Linked DNA regions of Homo sapiens. The protein of the gene in region 1 interacts with the protein of each later gene in a pairwise test. Each region holds a gene or a part of one and is shown in the gene's direction. Other genes may lie near its edges.

Region 1 (7,459 bases):
TTGTGGTACACCCATGCCACGGAATACTACTATGGATAAAAAAGGGACAAACTATGGATACACACAGCTACCCTGGATGAATCTCCAGAGAATTATACTGAGTGAAAAGACCAATCCCAAAAGGTTCCTGTATGTGCTGTATGGCTCCATTTATACAACATTCTTGAAATGACAGAATTAAAGAAGTGGAAGACTAGGTAGTGTTTTCTAGGTGTTAAGGAGAGACTGGCATGGGAGGGAAGCAGGAATAGCTAAAAAGGGCAACATATGAGAGATTTTTCATGGTGATGGAAATGTTCTGTATCTTGACTATATCAATGTCAGTATCCTGGTTGTGATGTTGTACTATAGTTTGGCAAGATGTTACCATTGGGGGAAACTGGATAAAGGGTGCACAGGATCACTCTGTGTTATTTCTTACAACTGCATATGAATTTATAATTATCTCAAAAAGTTTAATTTAAAAAAGTCTTTAGTCCTCTTCACCCATTGGACAATCGTTAAATATGTGCTCTGATTTGTATTCACTTTATGACTTCTTAGGGAAGCTATTAACAGAGTCTAGTGAGTAAGGTCTAACTGAGGTCTTGGAAGTTTTCTTGGCAGGTTTCTAGTAATTTAGTCTAATGAATTTGTATAATATTATTATGAAATCATACAAATCTGTAATTTGTTCAAGTGTATTTTCTTATGGGCCATTGTAATATCCAAAGAAAATGGCAGGCTGGTTGCGGTGGCTCACGCCTGTAATCCCAGCACTTTGGGAGGCCAAGGTGGGTGGATCACCTGAGGTCAGGAGTTCAAGACCTGCCTAGCCAACATGGTGAAACCTCATCTCCACTAAAAATACAAAAATTACCCAGGCATGGTGGCACATGGCTGTAGTCCCAGCTACTGGGGAGGCTGAGGCAGGATAATTGCTTGAACGCGGAGGCCTCTGCAGGTGAGTCGAGATTGCACCACTGCACTCCGGCACCAGCGACAGAGTGAGACTCTGTCTCAAAAATAAAAAAAGAAAAAATTGCAGAAGCATTGTCCTTCTTGTGGATTTAAGAGAACATTAGGATTATTTGGGGGCATGACCATATGAACTATAATTCCATCTCTAGATGAAAAACAAAATTTTTTCTTTTTCCCTAATGTGAGCTCTACCACATCCAGAATAACCCACTTGCACCATTTTAATTAACATTGAAAATTAAAGCCAAATCATACATTAGAGACAGGCTCTAGTCGTTAAAGACTCAGCTCTAGAGGTCAGGACAAGAGAGGAAAAATATTAGGCTTTGGGTGAATACATAATATTTGTTTAAGGAAATCAAGGTAAGTGGCTCCGTGATATGAAGTTCGTCTAAATTGATACTGTGGTATCACAAAAGAAGTAGGAAATGAGGAGCGTAGATGTTTTGTGTGTTATCATGTCTTCGTGATATTTACTGACCCTCGTGTGGGACTGGTCCTCAGGTACAGTTTGTCAGCTATTGTCATCAGTTCCAGCCTAGCACTGATAGCCTTTATGATACAACCTGACTTACATATTGTAAATGGAGCTTTGTAAAATACCATTAATTATTTCCCTATATAAATTTGTTCACAGGGATTTGATAACAATGAACAAGGATGATCGGTAAAAAGTTAACCTGTATTTCACCCTGACCAGGAATTTGGGATTTGGACTTGATAGCATGGTATCTGGCACATTGCAGGCACACAGTGAATGTTTGTTTCATGAACTAATATTGCTATTTTTGTGGTCCTTACTGCCTGCCCATGACCCTGCTTCCACGGTCCTTCCAGAGAAGAGCTGAGTGGGCAGACAGGGTGCCCTCGTAGTCTCTCTCAGTGCAGAGAAGTGCAGCCTGGGTGGGGGAGCAGCGTCAGGCTATGTAAAGAAGACTACAGATAGACTTGGGCCAGCTTTTATTTCACACTGAAAAGACAAGGAAGGGAACAGATTTAAAGAGATTTAAGTACCAGCATTCAAGGTAGATTAGAAATACTTTTTCTTAAATGTATCCTGTTTGGTTTAAATATAAGTATTGGCTTTTTAAACTTATTTTTTCCCACTATGAATAGTATTTTATTTATAAAAATGCTTTTGTGGACTAATCTGGGATCTAGCCTCCATTTATAATGTGAAAAATATGCATTCTGAATTCCAAGTAATGACTGAGAGTGAATTTTCGGAGCCCAATTTGTTCTTTAGTGATGGCACATAATTTGATTCTTATTCTTTTATCTTTCTGTCTTGCTTTCTTGTTTGTGGGCCACAGAGCAGCTTCTATTAAGCCCTTCTTTGCTTCCTTTTCACTACTTTGTTACTCGTCAGATATTTTTCTGGCCTCACAAGTTGATGCCTCACCTACAGATTTTCTAGAGAATTTCTTCAGGCTCAGTAACCTGTCTGTATTTAATAGAACAGTGAGTTCTTTTTCTCACCACACTTCTATTATAACTTAATTTTCTATTTACTGTAGATCCTTGCCAGCACATTACAGAATATTTTTGTTGAACCTTCTTGAGAATTCAGAGAAACTGCTGAGTGACCACTGAACGAAAAGATCTAATCTTAAGGCTTACGTGAGTATTTACTACTGTGGACTTCCTCACAAGATGTGAAACCTTCAGTGAACTGCTTTAGGACAGATTCAGTTCTGTGATCAAGATGAAAAATAACTATCATTGGGCTTATTAAATGTGGGATTAAGTTTAGTAGTTGCTCAGGGACACAGAGAAACTGACAAAATACACACTTGTTCTCACCTGAAAAATAGACACAGAGACTTGTATTTCTTGCTGAGCCAACACTCAGAAGTATCCTAGTCTGCAAACCACAAGAATTCTTACTGTGTCTGAATCAAAAACACCAACTAGATTTTTTAAATTATCTATTTTTAAAAATTTAACCAAAACACATTACCTTTTGAAAAGCACTTGATATGTGGCATTTCATTTTGAAAAAGGTTTATGATAGCTTTTCCATTTTTATGATTCAATACTGTGCAAGCTTGTCCAACCTGCAGCCCAGAACAGCTTTGAATGTAGCCCAACACAAATTCATAAACTTTTAAAAAACATTCTGAGATTTTTTTTGCAATTTTTTAAAGCTTATCAGCTATCATTATGTATTTTATGTGTAGCCCAAGACAATTCTTCTTCCATTGTGACCCAGGGAAGCCGAAATGTTGGACACCCTTGCTGTAAGGGAAAATATTTAGATTACCCTCGCAAAAGAATTCTTGACTATTTTATTGAGTAAATTCTTCTCATTGAGTTTTTCTGTTTGTTGGTTTGGTTTGGTTTGGTTTGGTTTGTTTTTTTGAGACAGGCCTCACTTTGATGCCCAGGCTGGAGTGCTGTGGCTCAATCACAGCTCATCGCAACCTCGACCTCCCGGGCTCAAGTGATCCTCTCACCTCAGCGTCCCGAACAGGTGGGACGAAAGGCGCGCGCCACCATGCCTGGCTAATTTTAAAATATTTTATAGAGACAGGGTCTCTCGCTATGTTGCCCAGGCTAGTTTCGAACTCCTGGGCTTCAAGCTATCCTCCCATTTTGGCCTTCCAAAGTACTGGGATTACAGGTGTGAGCCACTGTGTCCAGCCAGATTTTTAAAAAGTCATCATATGTATCATAATCTGAAGTTTATTTTGATTTTAATCTCTGTAGTTTTTAATCATAAACTTTTTTTCGTATTTGAAATTATTCTTAACAGCCCCTTTTCACCCTTCATTTCATATCCAGTGAGTCATTAAGTTGTGCTAATTCTGTCTTCTCTGTTCCTCTCCAGTGCGTCCCCTTCTGCCTGCCACTGCCTTAGGTCAGGTTTTCATTTCTTGCCTAGATAGCTGCAATGACCTAATGATTGATCTCCCTGCCTCCAGTCTTTGTCTCTACAATCCAGTGCCTCCATATTGCCATCCAAGTCATCTTTCTGAAAGACTAATAAGACTGTGCCATTTCTTTGACTTAAAATTCTTCAGTGGGCTGGACTCATTGAAATAGTAGTCCCAGCTATTTAGGAGGCTGATGTGGGAGGATTGCTTGAACCCAGGAGTTTGAGGCTGCAGTGAGCCATGATTGTACCACCGCACTCCAGCCTGGGTGACAGAGCAAGAACCTGTCTCAATTTAAAACAAAAAAAATCCTTCAGTGGCTCCTCACTGAAATTCAGGTATAAAAAAGCCTAACTGTGGAGTTGTTAGGAAGATTAAATTAAATTCATTAAAAGCTCCTAGTTGGTACCTGGCTCAGAACAAGTCTCAGTGTATGTTAATGCCCACTCTTTCCACAGAGAGCCCATGGTAGCAGCAGAGCCCTTGTGTAAGGCAGCCCCAGATTTTGGGACAATGGCTCTGCTGAGAAGCCAAGTTGAAAGGAATAGGGGCAGCAATCTCACCAAACTCAGCAGCCAGGCTTCCCTGAATCCCCTTGAGGTTAGGCACAAGAATAGATGGGTCTAGCGTCCAGTTCCATCAGTGTTTCAGAAAGAGACTTTACCTGATCAGCTGTATAAGCCAAGTCCATATGTGACTAAGCTTTTGTAACCTAAGAATAAAAAAGCCATCTCTAGAAAAGCATTGGTCTCTGCCTTTCTGTTTTCTTGTTTGTTTTCTCGTCAATTTCCTAGCGAAGTTTCTTTTGACAGGCTTTAACTCTTTCTTAAATGAACCTAGGGGAAGAGAGAGAGACCTAGTTGTATGCAGTTTGGTAGAGCAAAATGTCCTGAGAGTTCAGGTGCACCAGGCAGATGCTGAACTCTCACCTGAGTTCAGGTGCGCCAGTGGGGCCAGGAAACATCTGTGAAAGAGATGTGGGCAAACTGGTGAGCTGGATGAGTCCAAGAGATGAAATTCACATCAGACCTAGTTGGGATTGCTGCTTTGTCCTGACTTGGTATTCCCAGACAGCCCTACTTTTTTTTCCCCTCATCTCTCAGTCTTTGGACGGTGGGAATTTGGCACAGTCACATATTGAGATAACCACAGAGCACAGCAGAATAAGATCAATAGTGGAAAAAGCATAATCTGAATTGATTTCATGCTCTGATTTTTAAATTCAGTTTGTTACATTCCTTAGCCTTTCTCTTAAAATTTGTGCTATAGGCCAGGCGCGGTGGCTCACGCCTGTAGTCCCAGCACTTTTTGCAAGGCCAAGGCAGGCGGATCATGAGGTCAGGAGTTCAAGACCAGCCTGGCCAACATGGTGAAACCCCGTCTCTACTAAAAATACAAAAAATTAGCTGAGCATGGTGGCAGACACCTGTAATTCCAGCTACTTGGGAGGCTGAGGCAGGAGAATCGCTTGAACTCGGGAGATGGAGGTTGCAGTGAGCCAAGACCGCGCCACTGCACTCCAGCCTGGGCAATAGAGCGAGACACCATCTCAAAAAAAAAAAATTGTGCTATAAACATAACACTCTACAGGTCTTTGTTGAGTATAAGTTCTTTTCATGCAAGTAGTTTTAGTTACCATGTAGAATATCTCAAATACAAGAAGAAGCAAATATATCAAAGAGAATTAGTTTGTATTAAATAAGAATGTCTACCAGCAGTAGCATTTATATATGGGTAGTTCTTTGATGTTTAAACACCATGTTATCTATGTGTTCTGACAATGTAATACTTAAATCTAAGCTATTATGTCTTGCTTAACTTTAAAAATATCTCTTAATCTTTTTACATGGTGAAAAGCAAAATAGAGCTTTACAGTAATTGAATTGGAATTTTAATCCAGCAGATGTGAAGAAAATAAAATGTTTTAATGGAAAATAAAATACAATTGATAACTTTGTTGTTGTTTCTGTTTGGTCATTTATTTATTAGAGGCAGGAGGCCAAAAAGGATGAGAAATATTGCTTTTCTAAATGACTCCTTTGTCTTGATTTCATTTGTCTTCATGGAATCTCACTCACCTATTTCATTACAGGCGTGTTCCATCCACCACATCAGAACAATGTCGTATGTTTTTGTAAATGATTCTTCTCAGACTAACGTGCCCTTGCTGCAAGCCTGTATTGATGGGGACTTTAATTATTCCAAGCGGCTTTTGGAAAGTGGCTTTGACCCAAATATTCGTGACAGCAGGGGCAGAACAGGCCTTCACCTTGCAGCAGCTCGAGGGAATGTAGACATCTGCCAGTTACTGCATAAATTCGGTGCCGATCTTCTGGCCACAGATTATCAAGGAAACACAGCTCTTCACCTCTGTGGCCATGTGGATACTATCCAATTTTTGGTTTCCAATGGACTCAAAATTGATATTTGGTAAGTTCTCTGTTGTTTTAGAAGTCTAGTCATTTCTTCCCATTAATCTCTCAACTGATAATCTTATCTTGGGTCTGTTGGTTTTGTTTCCTCATTAATCAGTTGAAATAAGTTCAGAAAGCATTGAAGACAGTGTAATCCTGTTAGGCAAGTGAGGGAATGAGGGGCTGACTTCTAGATTTTTGCTAAAGCAGCATATTTTTTTCTATGAAAATAGTAGGTAGTTTCTGCTACTAATTATGTAGTGTTACAACAAGGGAAGAAGAAGAAAAGAACATTTGTTGAAAATCTATGAGCTAGACTGTGTTTACTTGTTAGCTCATTTAGTCCTCAGAATGAAGAGCTCTCACAATAGGTGTTTTCATTTTACAGATTAGATAGTGAAGACAAAAAAGGATTGGACAAAGTTCACACAGTTTATAGAGGATTTGAAAAGGTCACAGCTTATAAGGGACAGAGCTGGAATTTGAACCTAGTTCCGCTGACTCTAACGCTTGTGTGCCTTCTGTCATGTAACGCACCATGTGAGCTTCATAATCTCCCGGGAGTCCAGGATCCTTTTTAGACTGAACAATTTGAGGAAGTCATGGGGCTTTTTGTTTGTTTTAGTGATACTCTGCTTTTTGAGTGGGAACGATGTCAAGTCACCTGTAAAACTGAGCTTGACCTTTAAATTACAGTTACACACTGCCCTAATTTATTGATGCCATAATGCCCCTAAATCTGAATAAGACAGTAAATGCTTTTGTTTCTGCAGGACAAAATGGGGTAGGAATTGACTGCAGGATTTAATGTGATTGGGGTTCTAACCTATTATTAGCGCTAAATAGCTGCGTGAACCGAAGCAGCTTATTTGACATTTTTTTCTTAGACTTTTTTAAAAAAAGTACTTGTCTCATAAAATGTAAATATCAAATAAGAATGAATCTAGAACTAGATTTATCCACTTTTTTGACTATATGTTCTCTTTTTTCTTTTCCCTGGAAGTAAAAAAAAAAAAAAAAAGAAAAACAAGGGTTAATTCAAAATTCAGCTACACTGGATGTTTGGCTCAGCTCTGGGTTTTACTTTTGAGTTAAACTGGACCCATCCTTTTTTTCCCCTTGGTGATTTGTTCTTCATAAACACTTTCTATAGTACAATTCAGAAAAAAATAGAGGCACACGGCTATTACTTCTACCATAATCTGCTGT
Region 2 (8,279 bases), on another chromosome or scaffold:
CTAACAGCTGCTTTCTTGCTTTTCTGCAAGATTACTGTTTGATATTTCTCATTTCTCCTATGACCACCCAGCATTCCTATCTCATTGGCTAGGAAGGATTACTATTAAAAGTATTTTCTCTTTCTCTCTTTCTCTCTCTCTCTCTCTCTCTTTGAGGCAGGGTCTCGCTCTGTTGCTCAGGCTACAGTGCAGTGGCCTGATCTCGGTTCAATGCAGCCTCGACCTCCCAGGCTCAAGAGATCCTCCTACCTCAGCCTCCCAAGTAGCTGGGGCTACAGGCACTGGCCACCACGCCCGGCTCATTATTTTATTTTTGTGAAGATGGGTCTCACTGTGTTGTCCAAGCTGGTCTCAAATTCCTGGCCTCAAGAGATTGTCTCACTTCAGCCTCCCAGAGTGCTAGGATTACAGGCATGAGCCATCGCACCCAGCCCTAAAAATGCCATTCTTTCTAAAATTAAGCTATAACAGCTGGGCACGGTGGCTCACGCCTGTAATCCCAGCACTTTGGGAGGCCAAGGTGGGTAGATTATGAGGTCAGGAGTTAGAGACCAGCCTGGCCAACACGGCAAAACCCCGTCTCTACTAAAAATACAAAAATTAGCCAGGTGCACGCCTCTAATCTCAGCTACTAGGGAGATTGAGGCAGGAGAATTACTTGAACCCGGGTGGTGGAGGTTGCGTGAGGTGAGATCGTGCCATTGCACTCCAGCCTGGGCAACATAGTGAGACTCCATCCCCCCCAAATAAATAAATAAATAGAATTAAAATAAAGTGAAGCTATAAAGACAGTGAAATCCCAAAAGAAATACCAAGAAGATTGGCAAGTGAAGGGGCTCAGGGCAACATAACTGGATGTTCGAGGAGCACAGCCTTTTCAGGTGGAAAATAACAAGCTGGGTTGTGGATTCCACCAAAAGCAGAAACACATGCTGGGTAAGAATTTAAAATTAGCCTCATATTTTAAAACTTCCGAATATTATAAAATAGATAAATTAGAATTAGGTTAGCACAAGACAAGAACAAGAGCAACAAAACGACAAAGACTGAAGCAAACATTTTAGACTTTTTATCTGTGGTGCCTGCCTGTGGTGCCAGCTACTCAGAAAGCTGAGGCTGGAGGATCGCTTGAGCCCAGAAGGTCAGGGTACATTGAGCTACGATCCTGCCAGTGAACAGCCACTGCAAGCCAGCCTGGTCAACTACAGGAGACCCCATCTCTTAAAAAAAAAAAGCCTCCAAATATATGATTAAAAATTCCTAGAACCACAAGAAGAGGCTGCTAAGCCCCCACCATAGGAGGCCATTCCAACCTATCTCTCTTAATTACTGATAGCTCAAGCCCATACAAATTGACAAGTATATAAAAATACAAAAAATTAGCTGGGCGTGGTGGCGGGCGCCTGTAGTCCCAGCTGCTGGGGAGGCTGAGGCAGGAGAATGGCGTGAACCCGAGAGGCGGAGCTTGCAGTGAGCTGAGATCGTGCCACTGCACTCCAGCCTGGGCGACAGAGCGAGACTCCGTCTTAAAAAAAAAAAATTGACAAGTATATAAAAGACCTAACCTACCCCACTGACACCTTGACAGGAGGGACACCTGCAGAGACCCTTGCTCCCAACAGTCAGAGAATATTACATGTTGGAAGGACCCGTGAGACCCTTCCAGCCAGTGAGCAGTGGGTACAACTGAGTCATGCACAAATCTGTGGGGCCGGTTGGCTCGGCTCCCAGGAGGCTGCGAGTCTGTCCACGGGCCGAGGGCTTTGGGGGGCGGCCCCCAGGTGGCCGGGGGTGCGCGGGCAGAGTGAGCAGGACAGTGGGAGGGTCAGAGGCCCTTTCATAAAAGTGCGCAGAGCAGAGGAGCGATCCCCCTAGCTCCCCCACAGAGGGTGCTGCACCTGCGGCCCCTGCGGAGGTACTGGCTTGGCCAGCCCGGGAGGAGGGGCCCAGCCTGTTGGGACAGGAGATGGGGTGCAGGTGGAAGGCTCCAAGAGGCATCTGGGCTGGTAACGCGCAGACATCCCAGGTGGGTTGGAAGTGGGTCAAGGAGGCCTGGAGGACCCGGTGCCTGTGGGGGTGGCAGGCGGGCCACATCCTCCACTAGAACCCGAGGTGGCGGCGGGGTCAAGGATGACGAGTTATCTTCGGGACATTAGGAGGAAGCCCCACAGGCTGCAGTCACGTGGGTGGGCAAGGATGAAAGGCAAGGGAACCCAGAGAATCAAGTTACAAAGAAAAGCAAATGCCGCCAGCACAGTGGCTCACGCCTGTAATCCCAGCACTTTGGGAGGCCGAGGCGGGTGGATTGCCTGAGCTCAGGAGTTCAAGAAAAAAAAAGCCTGGCTAACATAGTGAAACCCGTCTCTACCAAAAATAAAATAAATAAATAAATAAAAGCTGGGCGTGGCGGCACGTGCCTGTAGTTCCAGCTACTCAGGAGGCTGAGGTAGGAGAATCGCTTGAACTAGGGAGGCGGAGGTTGCAGTGAGCCGAAATCGCACCACTGCACTCCAGCCTGGGCGACAGAGCAAGACTCTGTCTCCAAAAAAAAGAAAAGCAAATGCTCCAGGACCTTGGGGATTTTAAGAATATGCTGCCGAATAATTTGGAGAGTTAAACAGAAAATCATAACTGAAATCTACAAATTCCTCGAACAGAAAGGAAATGAAACTCCACATGTCACCTGGCACAGCAGAGGCTGTGATTCAAGGACAGGCTGAGGGTGAATGAATCCACACATCCGCTCTAAGATGCCTGATCCCAGCATTGTATAGAAATGGAAAGATACGGCCGGGTGCAGTGGCTCACGCCTGTAATCCAGCACTTTGGGAGGCCAAGATGGGCGGATCACAAGGTCAGGAGATCCAGACCATCCTGGCTAACACGGTGAAACCCCGTCTCTACTAAAAATACAGAAAAATTAGCTGGGCGTGGTGGCGGGCGCCTGTAGTCCCAGCTACTCAGGAGGCTGAGGCAGGAGAATGGTGTGAACCCAGGAGGCAGAGCTTGCAGTGAGCCGAGATTGCGCCACTGCACTCCAGCCTGGGCGACAGAGCGAGACTCCGTCTCAAAACAAAAAAAAGAAATGGAAAGATACTGCCCAGATGTGGTGGCTCACACCTGTAACCCCAGCACTTTGGGAGGCCAAGGCAGGCGGACCACCTGAGGTCAGGAGTTCGAGACCAGCTTGGCCAACATGATGAAATCCTATTTCTACTAAAACTACAAAAATTAGCTGGGCGTGGTGATACATGCCTGCAATCCCAACTACTCAGAAGGCTGAGGTGGGAGAATCAGTTGAACCTGGGAGGCAGAGGTTGCAGTGATCGAGACTGCAGCACTGCACTCCAGCCTGGGCAACAGAGACTCCGTCTCAAAAAAAAGAAAGAAATAAACGTGAGTGGATGGCTGTGCTGTTTGTATGGACCAGGAAAACTTCTAGAAGGATAGGTAAGGCAGTGTCCATAACTCAACCTGGGAATTGAAGCCAGGGTGGGGAGGAAAAGGCAACAGTTGGTTTCATTCTATTTTGTTTCTGTGCCTGTATTACTTCCAAAATAAACAAACTAGTTTCACTTTCACAACATGAAATGCTTTATCAGGATATGCGTTTTCCTCCAACCCCCAGTGGTGTCCCCTCACGGGACAAAAGCCTGCCAGCCTTCAGCTGCCCTCCAGAGCCTCACGGTGCAGGTGCTCCTGCCTAAGCAGCCGGACCCCCCTGCCCCCAGGAACTGCAGCCCCCTCTGAGTTGAGAGATCTAGTAGGCAGGAAAAAAGGAGAAGGAAGCTGTGGCTGCTGGGGGATGTGGCCTCGGGGACAAGCCCCTCTGTGCAGAGGACGTGGGCAGGTGGGATTTCAGCCCCCTCTCCAGCATCTCACTGGCAGCCAGGGTGGCTGGGGTTTCCCCGAGGGCGGGGGCTGGGGAATCTGACCTCTGTGCCCCGGCCATGGTGCCGTCTTGCTGGGAGGATGACAGGCTGTGTTTCACCTGCCAATTTGGCGACAGTTTCTCTTTTGGAACATCCCGGGGGACTTTGTTCTGTGCCACCCACCTCTGGACCCTGGGTCTGATGGCTGAGCTGCAGGCTCCAAGGTTCAGCGTCCAGTCTGGCCCTGCTCCGTCCATTCCCCACATTTGAGGGTTTCCCGGAGTTTGGTTCTGCTTCTTCCTCTCTTCCATGAAACTGGGGGCATTGCCCACGCCCCAGTGTCCCCCATCATCTGCCCGGTGGGGACTTGCCCACTCACGTGACTGCAGCCTGTGGGGCCTCCTCCTAGTGTCCCGAAGATACCTGGTCATCCTTGACCCCGCCCGCACCTGCCCGCGTGCCCCCTCGGGTTCTAGTGGAGGACGTGGCCCGCCTGCCACCCCGCCAGGCGCCGGGTCCTCCAGGCCTCCTCGAGCCACCTCCTGCCCACCTGGGATGTCTGTGGGTTCCCGGCCCGGATGCGTCTTGGAGCCTTCTACCCGCACCCCAATCTCCTGCCCCAACAGGCTGGGCCCCTCCTCCCGGGCTGGCCAGGCCAGCACCTCCGCAGGGGCCGCAGGACGCCTGAAGGCCCAGGCCGCAGGTGCAGGACCCTCTGCGGGGGAGCTGGGGGACATCACTCCTCTGCTCTGCGCGCTTTTATGAAAGGGCCTCTGACCCTCCGGGGGTCCAGCTCACTCTGCCCGCGCACTCCCAGGCATCTGGGGGCCGCCCCCCGCCCTCCCTCCCCGCGGCCCACTCGGCCCGCCCAGCTCGCCCCGTGCACAGACTCGAGGCCTCCAGGAGCGGAGCCAAACAGCCCCGCGGGGAACGCGCGCCGCACGCGAGCTGGACCCGCCCAGGCACGAACTCTCCTGGAAAAATGCTCCCGGCGGCTTTCCTGCTTCCTTTAGCGTGAACCGCGGGTGCGGTGCCTCCCGTGAAAATAATAAATTCACCGTCACGCTTGTTGTGAACGCGGGTGGTTCCCGAAACTTGGAGGCTTCCCGTAAACCCAGCTCCTTCCTCATCTGGGAGGTGGGTCCCGCGCGGGTCCGCCGCCTCCTCCCTGGCCCCTCCCTCTCGTGTCTTTCATTTTCCTGGGGCTCCGGGGCGCGGAGAAGCTGCATCCCAGAGGAGCGCGTCCAGGAGCGGACCCGGTGAGGCGCGGAGAGGGGCGGGCGGGGGAACCAGAGGGGCGGGCTCGGTGCTGGGGACTCGGTGCTGGGGACTCGGTGCTGGGGACTCGGTGCTGAGGGCCCGGTGCTGGGGACTCGGTGCTGGGGGCTCGGTGTTAGGGCCTCTTGGTGCACTGGGGTTGCCGGTCCGCGCAGGGATGGGGACTCTGGGGCTGCGGCGCCTCTGCCTCTGGGACCGTCACCCCCCGCTGGCCCTGAGCGTGCGTCGCAGGCCAGGCGGGCGGGGTCGCAGCGGGCGTACCCGAGTATGGGCGGGAACGAGCTGCCGGCCGGTGTGGGGACCCGCGTCCCTGCCCTGTGCGCCAGGCTCGACTCTTGAAGGGACAGAGGCGGCGTCTCGGACCCGGGGCTCCCCTAAGTCCGATGGGTCGGAGCCCCCTCCTCCCTTCCCGGTCCTCGGCCTCACCCGGGGTTCCCTGCGCCGTCGCTGCGACCAAGCTGGGAGCAAAACGCACTCGCTCATATGCGTGCACACAAGCTGGTGGACACACGCACATGAGCACACGCAGGCACGCGTGGACTGTTGCACACTCCACAGCCACAGCCTCGTGTGCACTCACAGCAAACTCATGAAACAGGAACCGTGAGGCTTCCCTCACCCGGCAGGCCCTCAGCTGCCCGTTCTCACGCGGGTTTTGCTGACTCCGCAGTAATCACCACATTCAGTTCCTTGCCCACTACTGGTGAATCACCTGCAGCTTGAGAAGCACGTTTTCTGCCGGTGGTCAGCAGAGGATCCCCGGCTTCTAGGAGGCCCAGGGCGACCGGCTGCAGGAGCCCGCGTAGGAGGCCTGTCTCCAGCAGGGCGGGGGTGGTGGCAGGGCCTCTCCACGGGGCTGCTGCTGAGCCCAGAGCGGGAGGACAGGAGGCCACCAGCAGAGGGGACAGGTGAACAGGTGCTGAGCAGGAAGGGTTAGCCCGGTCTAGCCCCAGGCCTGGGGGGCTTTGCTGCTCACCTGGGGTCCCCTCTGGGCCTGGCTCAGCAGAGACCAGGGCAGAGCCGTCCACACCGTGGGCCTGGGTGGGGTCCATGGCCTCTGCAGGCTGCAGCTGTCTTCTGAGAGGTGTTGGTGTGCTCATTCTCGGTAGAGACGTGGGGTCACCTGTGTTCCCTGAGCCCCTGCAGCAGCTGGGAAAGCAGTGTCAGCCACCCCTCAGGTGCTGTGGGGGTACAGAGTCCACTGACCACACAGGAGGACCCCAATGAACCCAGCCCGAGGGGGCCGGAGCTTCCACACACCCAGCACCCATGGGAGCCGGGACAGGCAGGCGCCCGGGGCACCAGGGAGCGGGAACAGGCATGCGCAGGCGTGCTGGGCGGTGCGTGAACTTTCCTAGGCGTGTCACTGGCATGGCTCCAAGCCTGCGCATCATCGCTTGTCAGGGAGCACTCAGACCCTGCCGTGTCTGGTGCCGGCGCCTCAGATACCGACCCCTGTGTTCGTGGTTTGAGAGAAATCTGATTGCCGCCTCCATCTTTTCCCGCTCTAGAAGTTTGTTTTTTGTTTTGTTTGGTTTGAGACGGAGTTTCGCTCTTGTTGCCCAGGCTGGAATGTAGTGGCCAGATCTTGGCTCACCACAACCTCCACCTCCCTGGTTCAAGCGATTCTCCTGCCTCAGCCTCCCAAGTAACTGGGATTACAGGCGTGCACCACCACGCCCGGCTAATTTTTTTGTATTTTTAGTAGAGACGGGGTTTCACCACGTTGTTCAGACTGGTCTCAAACTCCCGACCTCAGGTGATCCACCTGCCTCAGCCTCCCAAAGTGCTGGGATTGCAGGCATGCGCCACCGCGCCCGGCCCACTCTAGAAGTTTTGAGGCTCCGTGCGCCTCGTCTCCCTGTACCTGGTCTCCCTGTGCCAGGTCTCCCTGTGCCACACACGGAGCTGCCCGGCCAGTCACCGCCCACCTGGCCACTTTCCCTGGGGCCGCGCCCTGCCGCCTGCCCTCTCTCTGATTTTTAGCCACTGCGTGGCATTCAACTCAAGCCCACGCCTCTGGTCAGGAGGATGGCAGGAGAGGACTCAGGCAGACGGGCAGAGTGGCAGAGCTGCCAACAAAAACGCAGGATACCCAGTAACATCTGAGTTTGAGATCGTTAATCGTGTTTTAATATAAGTGTGTCCCGAGTGTCCCACGGGACAAGCTTTCACCAGGACATCATTGGTTGTTTATCTGAGACTCAGATGTGACCAGATGTGCCTGGTGACCTGAGAGGGGCCTGTGTTGCCAGGGTGCGTTTTCTTCTGATAAACGGAGCAAATTCCCACAGCAACCCAAAGTCGCTGACACCTGCTGCCCAGACAGAGCTGGGGCCACGCATGGTCCGCAGCCTGAAGCCTCGGGGTAGAGCCAGACCTGCCGCTCTCCTCCCGGTCTCCCCCCAGCTCCCTACCCCCTGAGCCCTTCAAAGTCATTCTCAAGCCAAAGACAGGGGTCTTCCAGGCCCAGGGCTCCCCTCCACGGCTGACTCATTCCACACCTTTCCCGCCACTTGCCGGGTGTGGACCGACAGGAAGGGCACCGCCACCTGCTCCTAGTACCCTCCAGCCCATCCCTTGCCGCCCTTCACCCCTGGCTGGACAAGGGTCAGGGTCGCCAACATTGGAGGGCACTCAGTGGGGAGCTGGTGAAGGTGCTGGGAGGAAGGGAGGACCGGGGAGAGGCAGTGAGAGGACCCGCGTGTGAGAAGCAGCGGCCGCCACCACAGTTGGGCTAAAGGGACTTGGTGGGGAGGCAGCATCTCCGGAACGGTGCAGTCCAGGCCGCCAGGGGCTGAGACCATGGAGAGGATGAGGCCAGAAAGACGGACAGTGCCAGCTTCTCACTCCCACCCCCCTCTCCCCAACCACTGCAGCCCAGGGCCCCAGGTCTTCAGGAAGCAATCGGCAGGGAGGCTAGGAGCCAGCACTGCAGGGTCCACCCTCGGTGGCAGAGGCATCTAGGAGCAGCTGTAGCCCCCGAGAGCAGAGGCTCCACCGAGCTGCTGGCCCCATGGAATGCACAGCGGGCAGACTTGGGACACTCAGGGTGGAGGGGAGGCAGATGCAGCCACTGCCAGGCGGGAGGAGCTTGGCATGAAGCCAGGTGCGTGCAGCTGGCCCTTG
Region 3 (7,459 bases), on another chromosome or scaffold:
GGTGCCACTGCACTCAGCCTGGGCTAACGTGAGACTCCATCTCAAAAAAAAAAAAATTACGTCTTGTGTCACAGAGCTGCAGATAAACCAGAGACTACTCATAACCGTGTACTTTTTTTTTCCCCCATTTCTGATCCCGTCTCAACGGAAGGATGTAATTGAGGAAGGGCTTGATTGGCCAGTGAGTCTTGAAGCTGACACCACTGCTGGTGGTATTTTCCCCTCTCCCTGGAAAGCATCCTGTTTTTAGTGAACCTATTAAATGTGTAGACAATTAATGGCTTTTTGCTTCCCCTGCTGCAGACTTAGCGGATCCCATGAGATTTTGACTACCGTCTGTGCTCAGAACAGTTTGAGCCGTATGGAGGAAGTCTCCGCACCAGTCTTACTGTTGGTGGTCACCAGGAAGCCAGCAGTGTGTCTGAACTGGACACATGTGGCCACTTCCTAGCCTCCCTTTGTCCTGCCACTGGTTGGTTGGGGCTGGGCCCTGGGAGAAACATAGAATGTGAGCAAATCAGTCCGTGGCCCCTAAGTTCCTTGTTGGCCCCGAGGCAGGCAGGAGAGGGGCGGGCACACAGGGCAGCTGATTTTCCTAGTGTCAATATTAGGATGTGACAATACAAAACACCACTGGGCCTCGCCAGGCACTGCATGGTAAACCTGTTTTTCTGGGGGTGGGACAGAACTTGGCACCCAGTTAGCCAAACTGAAAAGCCATGCAGCAAAGAGAGAAAAGCTCACTTGTTTATTTGAGTGAGGGTCCCTGTCATTTTGGATATTTAAGATCAAGTATTCTTGACCGCCCCCTCCCCGAGATGGAGTCTTGCTCTGTTGCCCAGGCTGGAGTGCAGTGGTGTGATCTCAGCTCACTGCAACCTCTGCCTCCCGGGTTCAGGTGATTCTCCTGCCTCAGCCTCCCGAGTAGCTGAGATTACAGGCGCGTGCCACCACACCAGGCTAATTTTTGTATTTTTAATAGAGATGGGGTTTCACCACGTTGGCCAGGTTGGTCTTGAACTCCTGACCTTGTGATCCGCCCGCCTCAGCCTCCCAAAGTGCTGGGATTACAGGTGCGAGCCACCGTGCCTGGCCAAGAGATGACATTTATTGTGTGTGACAGTATCTTCGAGATTAGAGGCTCCCTTTCATGTGAGGGCAAAGAGAGCTACCTGATTCCAGGAGGAGCTGAAATTCCCTGTGCAGACAATGGCGCATCATGAAGATAAATCCGAGCTCGGACCGTGAGGTGGTCAGCACGGGTGTGCGCCTCGCAGAGCAACAGGCTCACAGAATGAGAGCTGCCTCTTAGTGGGCACTTACTGCATACCATGCATGCAGCATTTCACCTCCTTCTCAGGGCTACATCTGCCCATGGGGCTTTCCCTCCTGCCCTTTAACAGAAGGTGATACTGTCCAGTCCAGGGTCTCCCAGCCAGGAACAGCCTGCCATCGTGAGCCCAGCACCAGAGTAACCCCTTCCCTCATTCTCAGGATTTTGCAGTGAACTCTCAGGCTGTCTGCATCCTCTCACCGGCTTTCACTGGGTCCCTGCTCTGTTCTGGGGCCATGCAGGTTCCCGACTGGCTGGGGCAGACACACAGGTAAACATTTAACGAGACCTTGATGGGCTGAGTGCCCAATCCAGGTCTGTTTACCCAAGGTGCTGGGACAACACAGATGAGGAGCATTTAATTCTGTCCTGGGGAGGGTGGGGAGGAAGTGACTTGTGCCTGAGCCCCAAGGAAGCAGTGAGTCCCCCGTGCCTGCCTGGGGGATGTTGGTAACAGAGGGAGGATGTAAAGGAGGAGCTGGGGTGTGAAAGGGCTGGGTGCAAGTTCATAGGGGAGACCCAAACACTGAAGTGGAGCCCAGGGGCCGTACCTGCCTCTCAAGCCTCAGGGTCGGGGCCAGGGTGAGCAGTCTTCATATTCTTCAGCCTCAGCATTTCAGAACTTGTTTTATTTTTTTTTTGAGATGGAGCCTTACTCCTGTCGCGGGGGCTGGAGTGCAGTGGCGCGATCTCGGCTCACTGCAACCTCCACCTCCTGGGTTCAAGTGATTCTCCTTCCTCAGCCTCCCTAGTAGCTGGGATTACAGGCGTGCGCCACCACGCCTGGCTAGTTTTTGTATTTTTAGTAGAGATGAGGTTTCGCCATGTTGGCCAGGATGGTTGTGAACTCCTGACCTCAGTTGATCCACCTGCCTCAACCTCCCAAAGTGCTAGGATTATAGGTGTGAGCCACCGCGTCTGGCCTATTTTTTATTTTTGATTGAGTCTTGCTCTGTTGCCCAGGTTAGAGTGCGGTGGCACGATCTTGGCTCACTGCAACCTCTGCCTCTCAGGTTTAAGTGATTCTCCTGCCTTAGTCTCCCGAGTAGCTTGGACTACAGGTGCCCGCCACCACGCCCGGCTAACTTTGGTATTTTTAGTAGAGACACTGTTTCACCATGTTGACCGGGGGGTCTTGAACTCCTGACCTTAGTTGATCCATCTGCCTTGACCTCCCAAAGTGCTGGGATTACAGGAGGGAGCCACCGCGCCCCGGCCCAGAACTTGTTTTAAATATGAACTTTTGAAACTTAACAACTGTAGGCCCAGGTGGTGGCTTGGCATTCTCTGCTTCCTTCATGGTGATAAAAAGGCACAGGCTTCCCCTTTTTGGGGTCATTTCAAAATCAGTCAAGAGAATTATTAGTCTGTTAGACTTCCTCTACGGTTAGGATTATTTTTATAGGTGTTCGAACAGGAAAGGACATAGAATAAAATCTCCTCCCCTAACTTATTGATACAGGGTCTCACTCTGTCGCCCAGGCTGGAGTGCAGTGGCGCAGTCACAGCTCACTGCAGCCTCAACCTCCTGGGCTCAAGTGATCCTTTCGCCTTGTGCTCTTAAAGTGCTGGGAGCCTCCAAAAGGCTAAGCTGTGACGTTGGGTAGGTTACATGTATTAAATGCATTTTTTTTTTTTTGAGACAGTTTTGTTCTTGTCACCCAGGCTGGAGTGTAATGGCATAATCTCGGCTCACTACAACCTCTGCCTCCCAGGTTCAAGTGATTCTCCTGCCTCAGCCTCCCGAGTAGCTGGGATTACAGGCGCCCACCCCCACGCCCGGCTAATTTTTGTATTTTTAGTAGAGACAGAGTTTCACCGTGTTAGCCAGAATGGTTTCGATCTCCTGACCTCGTGATCCGCCCGCCTCGGCCTCCCAAAGTGCTGGGATTACAGGCGTAAGCCACCGTGCCCGGCCTGGTGAAACCCCGTCTTTACTAAAAATACAAAATTAGCCAGGTGTGGTGGCGTGCACCTGTAGTCCCAGGTACTTGGGAAGTTGAGGTGGAAAGATCACCTGAGCCCAGGGAGGTGGAGACTACAGTGAGCCATGTTCATGCCACTGCACTCCAGCCTGGGTGACAGAGAGACCCTGTCTCAAAATAGTAATACTCCATATTGGGCCTCTCACAGGGGAATCTTGGGGGGAGCTGCAGCTCAGGGTGACTCCCATCTTGTCACTAGCCAGGTGACCCCTTCATTCTGGAGCCTTAGCTCTGAAAGCCGCAGGTGGGGGTGCCGTTTCAGATGCCCCTTTTCCATTTCAAAGGCTCTGATTCTAGATCTTGAAGCCGGATGCGGCACTGGCACTTGGCTTCAGTTTCCACTGTGACGGACGGAGGTCTCCCAGGCCCAGCCCAGGCAGCCAAGCCCATCCTGGAATCAGAACACGCTGAGCACATTTTGTAGGGTGGCACCTTTTTATCCAAGTTACTAGCTACACATCAGTGTTTAAAGAGAAAAAAGTGAGCTGTCTTTTTTTTTTCTTGAAACTTGAGGAAACAAGGTACATACTACGGATTTTTTTTTTTCTTTTTCTTTTTTTTTTTTGAGACAGTCTCACTCTGTCGCCCAGACCGGAGTGTGGTGGCATGATCTCGGCTTACTGAAAGCTCTGCCTCCAGGGTTCAAGCCATTCTCCTGCCTCAGCCTCCCGAGTAGCTGGGACTACAGGCGCCCGCCACCACGCCCAGCTAATTTTTTTTGTATTTTTAGTAGAGACAGGGTTTCACTGTGTTAGCCAGGATGCTCTCCATCTCCTGACCTTGTGATCTGCACGCCTCAACCTCCCAAAGTGCTGGGATTACAGGCGTGAGCCACCGCGCCCGGCCCATATTTTTTTTTTTTGAGATGGAGTTTTTCGCTCTTGTCGCCCAGGTTGGAGTGTAATGGTGTGATCTCGGCTCACTGCAAACTCCTCCTCCCAGGTTCAAGCGATTCTCCTGCCTCAGCCACCCGAGTAGCTGGATTACAGGCGCGCACCACCACACCTGGCTAATTTTTTTTGAAACGGGGTAGAGACGGAGTTTTATTACCATGTTAGTCAGGCTGGTCTTGAACTCCTGACCTCATGATCTGCCCACCTTGGCCTCCCAAAGTGCTGGGATTACAGGTGTAAGCCACCGCGGCTGGCCCATTTCATATATTTTTAAAATTTTTTATTGTTAATTTATTTTTAGAGAGGGGGTCTCGTTGTATTGCCCAGGCTGGTCTTGAACTGGGCTCGTGCGACGTGCCCGCCTCGGCCTCCCGAAGGGCTGTGATGACAGCACAGCGGTGCCTGTGATCTATGGCTTCAATTTTTCAAGGCTGCCAGGTCCATGCAGGGGTGTGTGTGGGATGCATCCCTAGAAATCAAAGGTCATGTGCGTGTGTGACTGGTGGATGCTGATGGTCACACTACCCTCCAGAAAGGCAGCAACATGTTCAGTCCACCGTGGCGTCCTGAGCTGTGAGTGGCCTCTGGTCTCCTCTCTTCTAAGGCTGTTGATTGTGTTAACCAGCTTTTATGGAGCCCCTGCTAGGTGGTGGAAAATGGGCAGTAGTGTATGTTTTCATCCTCTCAGCAGCCCTGGAGGCCCGGCTGTTTCTGCAAGGCTCAGAGGTGAGCTGGTTGTTCTGCCTCACACAGCAGGGGCCGAGCAGGGGGTGGAACTGAGGTCCAGCCTGGCTGCAGGCTCAGGGCGTTTCCTGCTGGGTTACACTGGAGTTGTGTGCGCTCCAAGGGCTTTGTGCCACCCCACCCTCATGGTCCAGGGCCAGGCTGTGACTGGGAGGGTGGCACGTGGAAGACTGGACCAGGGTTTTCTAGCTGGGCCCACTCAGCTGGCCCTCCCTGTGACCCCAGCGTGGCCCCTGACCCTCTCGGTTTGCCTGCCTGTGAAACAGGAAGTGTCAGATCCCGCCTGCTTGGCTTTGACAGGACTGGGCGAGGTCATGAGAGTCTGAGGGTCCCTACCAGGAGTTCGACCTCATCCTCAGGTCCAGCCCCATCCACCTCTGCCCCCAACCCCGCTCTGACACTCCTGCAGCCTCGGCCCTCGAACACCTGCTGAGGGCTGAGCAGAACACATCTCTACTTGCTTGTGCTTCTGGGCAACCTGGGAGGGGCTTGGGAGGTAGATGGCGTTTCCCCATCTTCCAGATGAGCCATAGGCGAGCTGTCGAGTGCAGAGCTGTTCACCAAATGTAGGCTGCTCTGTCCAGAACCTGCCCTCCCTCCCACTCGGAGCCCTGCAGGTGCCCTCAAGGCCGTGGGTGTGGTACTCTTTTCTGCACATACTAGATTTGCATCCTAACCTCTTAGGGTAAAATAGGGCTTCTGACTGGCGCCTGGTGTTTCCACTGGTGAGTGTGTAGGAGGCTAAGTGCGGGCTGTAGCCTGGGTGGGGACACATGGCTAGGTGTGTCTTCCTTCACCAAAGAAGGGTTTCAACTACTCATTTGCAAGTTTGCTGGAAAAAAAAAGATAATAAAAACCAGTCCAGTTTCCTGTATCTGCAGCTGCAGTGACCTCACAGTGGGTCCTCTGGGAATAGGTTGCCTTCATGTCTTCAGTCAACAAACATATGTCTGCTCTATGCCAGGCCTTGGGCTGACAACCAGAAACTGATAAGAGCAGCAGCCCCTCTCTTAGCGGTTTACTCTGTGCCGGATCATTTCATCCCCACAACAGTCCTGTGCAATAGGTGTTACTAGTATCTCCATTCTAATTTTTTTTTTTTCTGATATGGAGTCTTGCCCTGTAGCCCAGCCTGGAGTGCAGTGGTCAGCTGGAGCCAGAGGGGAGCAGAGACAGGGGCTGCAGGACCCCCAGGAGGCCCCCAAGCAGACTCTGAGGGTCCAAGAAGGTGATGCCCGAATAGGCCAGCCTCATACCCATCCTCTCAGTACTTTGGGAGGCCCAGGCGGGAGTTGAAGCCAGGAGTTCCGAGACAAGCCTGGGCAACAAAGCAAGACCCTATCTCTACAGCAATTCTATAAAAATGAGCCAAGTGCAGTGGTACATACCTGTCGAGTTACCCTGGAGGCTGAGGTGGGATGATTACCTGAGCCCAGGAGTTTGAGGCTGTAGTGAGCATGATCAGGCCACTGCACTCCAGCCTGGGCAAACGGGTGAGACCCTGTCTGTGAAAAAAATAATAATAAAATTTAATTTTTAAAAAAGGACCAATAGGCGTAGGCATGGGCCGGTCTGAGGTTGGCTGGTGAGCTCTGCACATTTGAAGACTTTGGAGGCATGGCAGGACCAGGCACCATCCATGGAAAGCATACTTGAGTGTGGTTAGCGCGGGAACCAAGATTGGGGTGGCAGGGCCACAGGGGGAGGGCCTGTTAGTGGATGTGGCACAACCCCCCACTTGTTTTTGAGACAAGTCTTGCTCTGTCACCCAGGTTGGAGTGCAATGGCGCGGTCTCGGCTCACTGCATATTCTGCCTCCTGGATTCAAGTGATTCTCCTGCCTCAGCCTCCCAAGTAGCTGGGATTATAGGCGAGCGCCACCACACCTGGTTAATTTTTGTATTTTTAGTGGAGATGGCGTTTCACCATGTTAGCCAGGCTAGTCTCAAACTCCTAAGCTCAGGTGATCCACCTGCCTCCACCTCTCAAAGTGCTGGGATTACAGGCGTGAGCCGCACTGCACCAGGCCAGGTCTAGGGAGCCGAACAGAGCAGTGACAGGGTCAGGGTTGAGGCTGCTACCTTGAGATTAGGTTGGAGAGAGCTCCACTGAAGGCTGGAGACCAGTAAGGCATTCAGAGCTGGTGCCAGGTAGGAGCTGACAGGACTGGGCCTCCCTTGGGCTGGTGGGGTGGCCAGGAGAGACCAGAGCAGGAGGTCGCTGCTGCAAGGACCCTCCTGGGCAGGCTCCCCACCTTCCGCTCCCTGGCTCCACACTTTTCCCATGCAGATCTGGGCCCTAAGGCCAGCCTAGGCCCAGTTGGTGATGGGATCTTTGCCATTCATATCAAGTCAATCTGAGGGCCTGGGCCCAGAGGCCAGATGGTTAAAGGTTCAGATTAGGTCCCTTCTTTGTGGTAGAGGGTAATGGGTATTTAATAAATTAATCCAAAGTGCTGTAATCCCAGTACTTTGGGAGGCTGAGGCGGGTGGATCACTTGAGAT

Evidence for each region. Proteins that work in one complex are often made in the same cells at the same time.
Region 2: the proteins of ANKRD46 (region 1) and SECTM1 interact in binary tests that used the Homo sapiens proteins (3 or more experiments, as listed by UniProt).
Region 3: the proteins of ANKRD46 (region 1) and BIK interact in binary tests that used the Homo sapiens proteins (3 or more experiments, as listed by UniProt).

The regions. Positions count from the first base shown.
Region 1 is NC_000008.11:100,528,330-100,535,788, reverse strand, and holds part of ANKRD46 (ankyrin repeat domain-containing protein 46), read left to right. Parts: intron 1-2,477; 5' UTR 2,478-2,580; intron 2,581-3,328; exon of another isoform or gene 3,329-3,433; intron 3,434-5,928; 5' UTR 5,929-5,955; coding exon 5,956-6,266; intron 6,267-7,459.
Region 2 is NC_000017.11:82,330,552-82,338,830, reverse strand, and holds the start of SECTM1 (secreted and transmembrane protein 1 precursor), read left to right. Parts: upstream 1-5,064; 5' UTR 5,065-5,131; intron 5,132-8,279. UniProt on the Homo sapiens protein: May be involved in thymocyte signaling.
Region 3 is NC_000022.11:43,113,506-43,120,964, forward strand, and holds part of BIK (bcl-2-interacting killer), read left to right. Parts: intron 1-7,459.